Linked DNA regions of Homo sapiens: region 2 is linked to region 1. The links come from fine-mapping of genetic effects on gene expression. A gene starts in region 1. The other region holds a variant in brackets. All regions are shown on one strand. Distances are from middle to middle. Region 1 holds the start of CEP20 (centrosomal protein 20). Region 2 overlaps CEP20 (centrosomal protein 20).

Evidence for each region. PIP is the estimated chance that this variant, and not a neighbour inherited with it, causes the effect.
Region 2: its variant is fine-mapped to the expression of CEP20 in whole blood (TOPMed, PIP 0.95).

Annotation. Positions count from the first base shown.
Region 1 is chr16:15,886,997-15,889,912 of GRCh38, forward strand. CEP20 (centrosomal protein 20) reads right to left here and starts at 1,607. Exons shown (of 5, transcript NM_144600.4): 1 at 1,562-1,607. The coding sequence starts at 1,589.
Region 2 is chr16:15,866,000-15,868,915 of GRCh38, forward strand. It overlaps CEP20 (centrosomal protein 20), which reads right to left. Exons shown (of 5, transcript NM_144600.4): 5 at 1-1,517. The coding sequence ends at 1,441. Among named protein-coding and RNA genes, the nearest start is that of MYH11, 10 kb to the left of the region's middle. The variant G/A (reference allele first, on the strand shown) is at 1,376.

The DNA.
Region 1 (2,916 bases):
CAAGCTATCTTCCTGTTTCAGCCTGTGGGGTAGCTGGAACTACCACAGGCCACTATGCCCGGCTCTTTTTTTTAATTTTTATTTTTTAAATAAAGATGGGGTCTCACCATGTTGGCCAGGCTGGTCTTAAACTTCTGGGCTCAAGCGATCCTCCCAAAGTGTTAGGATTACAGGCATGAGCCACTGTGCTTGGCCCATTCCAAGTGTACCTTTAAATCCTCTGAAAATGTATGCAATATTACATGTGATGTGTATTTCCCTGGGAACAGCATCTGTAGACTCGTGAAGTCTGTTCTTGTGGACAGATGCATGCCTGTTCTGTTTTATGATTGTTCACCAGCCCTGTCCCCAAATACACACTTTTATACACGTCTCCTCCCTAAAATATCTAAGAATTACTAGTTTAAACCCTGGGTTCCCTGCAAAGTGGAACTGGTTTTATTTTTTGGACAGCAATCTTGCTCAGTGATTAAGACCTGGCGCTCCAGTGCGTCACAACTAGGTTCCCATGCTGTGTCTCTTTCCAGTGAAATCACTTTGAGCTATTTCACTTCTCAGTACCTCGTTTCCCAGTCTATGAAATGGGCATAGGGTTGTTACAATCAGGTAACACACAGGCTGAGTTGAGTAGTGCCTGACACATGAGGCTCAATGATAACTATTATTACTATTACTTGTCTGGACATTTGCTTCAAAGTAAACAGCGTACAAATGTCATTAATGACTCAAACATAACTAGCTTAGAGTATCTTTTCCTGAAAAGACAGGAGAATGGCCAGGCCAGCAAACTTTTTGCCTCTAGTTTCTTCTGATGAAAAAGGGGCCAGGCGCTCACACCTGTAATCCCAGCACTTTGAGGGGGCCAAGGCAGGAGGATAGCTTGAGACCAGGAGTTCGACAGTAAGACCCCGTGTCTACAAAAAATACAAAAATTAGCCGGGCGTAGTGAAGAGCCCCTGTATTCCCACCTGCTCTGGAAGCTGAGGTGGGAGGATAGCTGGAGTCCCGGAGTTCGAAGCTGCAGTGAGCTGTGATCGCGCTACTGCACTCCAGCCTGGGCGACAGAGAGACCCTCTCTTTAAAAAAAAAAAAAAAAAGCAAGGAGGGGAGGGCTACTTAACAGGTTGTTGTAAGGACCCAACGAGACAACCAAGCAAATTGTTTAGGGCAGTGCCTAACCCAATAGGGGTTGTGGGAATTGTAGTCATCAGCCCTGAGTGCCAAGCCTGGTCCAAGTCCTCCAGCCCCCGGCAGGGTCCAAGAAGATGAGCCAGGGGCCCAAGATGCAGGCCTGTAGGCCTCTTAGATGCCTGAAGATTACGCAACTCCTCCTTTAGCTCCAAACTGGCTTAAAACTCGCCAGTGGGCAACCTCTTCCCCATAAGAGCTCCCCGCGCACGGGCCAAGACAGCAGCCAGACGCTCCCCGCAGGCCCTCACACCGAAGAATGACGCCTGTAAAAGCCAACCCATGTGTTCCGCGCGCTCTCCTCCCATCCCATCCTTTCCACAAGATGAAGGCCCGACGCTTCCCATGTGGAGGCCTCCCTGCTCGCACTCACCAGCCTTCAACTCTGCCACAGTCGCCATTTTTCAACGGCCGCCAGGGCCGCACCGCGGCCCTGCGCACGCGCAGCTCCGCCCCACTCACCCTGCGGCGTGGTCTGTAGCCAATAGGCGCACAGCTCTCGCCCCGCCCACTTCCGCCCCTCTCAGTTTATGAGCTCTGCGGTTGAGTGGGTAGTGAATGTCGACCAGAGACTCCACCAATCAGCGAGCGCTCTCGGAAGGCCCAGTTGAGTGAGACGGCAGGGAGGGCGGGGACTGAGGCAGTGGAGAGCCCTGTGGGGTGCTGCTGGCACCTTAGTGCTTAACTTTAGCCAGCTGAGTTTTTCATTGTCTCTGCAGCCTCAAGTACCAACTGCTAGTAGTTACCACCTATTAACCCTGCGGTTCTCAAACTTGAGCATGAATCCTCATCACCTCCAAGACTTGTTTAAACGGATTGTTTGCTAGTCCTCCCCATAGAGTTTCTGATTCTGTAAATCTGGGGTGAGGCCCTAGGATTTGCATTTCTATCGAGTTCCCAGGTGGTACTGGTACTGCTGGTCGGTCTGGAGATCACACCTCGAGAACCACTGTATTAAGCACTTACTGTGACGCCTTAGCGCATTATTTCCTTATGATCACGCCGTTTTTACAATGAAGGAAACAGAGTCCTCCATCGCTGAAGAGACTTAACCAAGGTCACCAGCCTGTCCTCTTCCACTCGCACTTACACAGTGCATGTAAGGAGTCCAGGAGCTTTTTATGGAACTAACTAATGAAGGAATAAGCTCCAACATCCCATGGAAGTAAAGGAAAAGGAACAGGGGAATAATGTACCCTAAACTGAGTGTGAGGTTGCATGATTCCAGTTGTAATGCCGGTGAGATCCAAACACTTGGCTAAATAATAAACATCGATTAGACGTACACCTAAGAGTGGCCGGGCGCGGTGGCTCACGCCTGTAATCCCAGCACTTTGGGAGGCCGAGGCGGGCGGATCCCGAGGTCAGGAGATCGAGACCATCCTGGCTAACACGGTGAAACCCTGTCTCTACTAAAAATACAAAAAATTAGCCGGGCGTGCTGGCGGGCGCCTGTACTCCCAGCTACTCGGGAGGCTGAGGCAGGAGAATGGCGTGAACCCGGGAGGTGGAGCTTGCAGTGAGCCGAGATGGCACCACTGCACTCCAGCCTGGGCGACAGAGTGAGACTCCGTCTCAAAAAAAAAAAAAAAAAAGTACACCTAAGAGCTGCCAGGGCACGGTGGTTTACGCCTGGAATCCCAGCACTTTGGGAGACTGAGGTAAGGAGTTCGAGAACAGCCTGGCCAGCCTGGTGAAACCCCCTCTGTACTAAAAAAAAAGTACAAA
Region 2 (2,916 bases), 21 kb before region 1:
TATTCACACATACAATACAACGGAATTCATCAATGTAATCAGATATTGCAGATTTAAAAATGGAAAATGGACTCTTGCAATACTTCTGCATCCATATATAATTTTACCAGCAGGGCCTCCCAAAATGTTGTGTAAGTATAGTTTAAATGGATTTCATTAATAAGTTTCTGCATTTAGATAAAAATTCTTGGCTAATCTGTAAGAAGTGAACACTGACTAGCATTGCCAAACAGAAAATCAAAAGTTTCAACAATTTGCAAAGCAGCACAGAATTGACACCCTAAAGAGGATGCCAATTTTGCTAACTACAGCTCTTACCACTCTTCTCCATGGAAAACCTTTAAGCTAAATGTTGTCAGTGTTTAGGTGTGCAGGCAAAATTTAATTCTGAATATACCATCGAACTTTTGCCAATCAGGAGCTGTCTATCATCATAGTCAGTTGTTTTCAATGAAATGAGCCTGTGGACACTACATTAAAAATACTTCTTTAATAAATATCGAAGTAGCGTATTAGAGATAGCACATACTATTTTTCTATCCCAAGAATAAAAATTGATGTTTGGTAAGAGTTTCGGAGCCCAAACAAGTAGGGGGCTGGCCCTCTTCTGGCTCATCTGTGATTGCACAACCGAGGGCCACACGGAGATTAAACAATGCCATCTTTGAAAAATCCCTTTCTGGTATTTCTCCCAAAGCCTGTCTCTTCATGCTTACTTCACATTCTTTATCTAATAAAATAAACTCTTTGTTTTATTTACAGCAAAATTATTACAGCAAATTTACTTCTCCTCTACCTTTTAATTAAATCTTCCAGTAAGCCAAAGTCTAAGGAAAGAAAAAGTACATTGTTGCCTATTGAAAAGGTAATACAAAGCCCTTTCATTTCCTTACAAACTTTAAGGGCCTTTATAATACTTCCTAAATGGCTGGGCTCAGTGGCTCACACCTGTAATCCCAGCGCTTTGGGAGGCTGGGGCACACAGATCACCTGAGGTCAGGAGTTCAAGACCAGCCTGGCCAGCATGGTGAAACCCCATCTCTACTAAAAATACAAAAACTACTCCGGTGTGGTGGCACAGGCCTGTTTTCCCAGCTACTTGGGAGGCTGAGGCAGGAGAATCACTTGAATCCGGGAGGCAGAGATTGCAGTGAGCCGAGATCGTGCCACTGCACTCCAGTCTGGGTGACAGAGCGAGACTCCATCTCAAAAAAACAAAAAATACTTCGTAAAAACAATACTTTTTTTTTCAAGTCAAATCCAATAAGCTAGATGACAAGAGTTAGCTTTTATTCACAAATGTAGTTAAACATGAGGGGTGTTTTGTAGAAACTCCAATTTCTACAAACATTAGTGGTGCATTTTGGTAACATTG[G/A]GACAATAAATAAGTTATTTAATTAATAATACAATTTTAAGACAAAAGATACCCCAAACAAAGCATTATCTGTTGACTGCCTGAGAAACATGAAGATCTTCAATGTTAGTACTTTTCTGTTCCTCCTTTCTTAGGTGGTCATCTGAAATGCACAGAAACCAATGTTAATACTTATCCCAAGTCAAAACACACAGATAGGTAGACATAGCTACAAATATCTTAGGATGTTACATATTTAATATTCTATGAGTACTTTAGATGGTTTAGGACAATGAAAAAAACCCATTATTTTTTAAACACTATTGAAGAAATCAGAGGCCAAGCGTGGTGGCTCACGCCTGTAATCCCAGTACTTTGGGAGGCCGAGGTGGGTGGATCACCTGAGGTCAAGAGTTATAGACTAGTCTGGCCAACATGGTGAAACCCCGTGTCTCCTCAAAATACAAAAATTACCCGGGCGTGGTGGCAGGCGCCTGTAATCCCAGCTACTCGGGAGGCTGAGGCAGGAGAATTGCTTGAACCTGGGAGGCAGAAGTTGCAGTGAGCCAAGATCGTGCCATTTCACTCCAGCCTGGGCAACAAGAGTGAAACTCGGTCTCAAAAAAAAAAAAAAAAAAAAGAAAGAAATCAGAAATGTCTGGCATTAGGGACTCTAATTATTCAAAAGAGTTTCTTGACTTTTTTTTTGAGTAGAGTACAACCTGCAGTAAACCCATGCATAAGTAGTTACAAACCTCTCTCTTACATGTAAGGAATGAAATTTGCAAGAAAGGACAAGGTGTTCAATCAGCATTTTGAGGGTTGCCAAAGCTCTTCAATTACAACACAATGAAAACCACTTCAAATAGATCACCTGAGGTCAGGAGATAGAGACCCTGTCTCTACTAAAAATATAAAAATTAGCCAGGCGTGGTGGCGGGCACCTACAATCCCAGCTACTTGGGAGGCTGAGGGCAGGAGAATCGCTTGAACTCAGAAGTGGAGGTTGCAGTGAGCCGAGATCGTGCCACTGCACTCCAGCCTGGGCGACAGAGCAAGACTCTTGTCTCGAGAAGAAAAAAAAAGAACCTAGAGACTTAATATCCTAATGCAACAAAAATGTAATGCAAAAACTAGATTCTTGAGAATATATGAACCCCAAACACTTTCTACAACTGATAAAACATCTTTCTTGCAACAACTTTGATAATAGGAAAAAATATATACATAAATTTAGATAAGCTGCTAGAAAATGCAATTTTATCACTGGGTTTTCTAATTCTACAATGTGATTATACACACGCTTTATTAGTTCTCAGCTGCTTATTCTCAGTGCCAATACTACTTTAAGGGTCTGGAAAACAGATGGAAATCTCTCTCCCTTTATTTTAGGTAACTTTGCTGGACAGAAAAAAAATTAACAATTTCCTCAGAAGGTAACAATTTTAGGTCTTCTAGAAAAGTGTTATAAAAAATGAAGTCTACTATGCTTGATAGATGTGCAATAAAGTTAAGCTGATGACTGTCCCTATTATAAAAATCTGGTCTTTCATTTACAATAA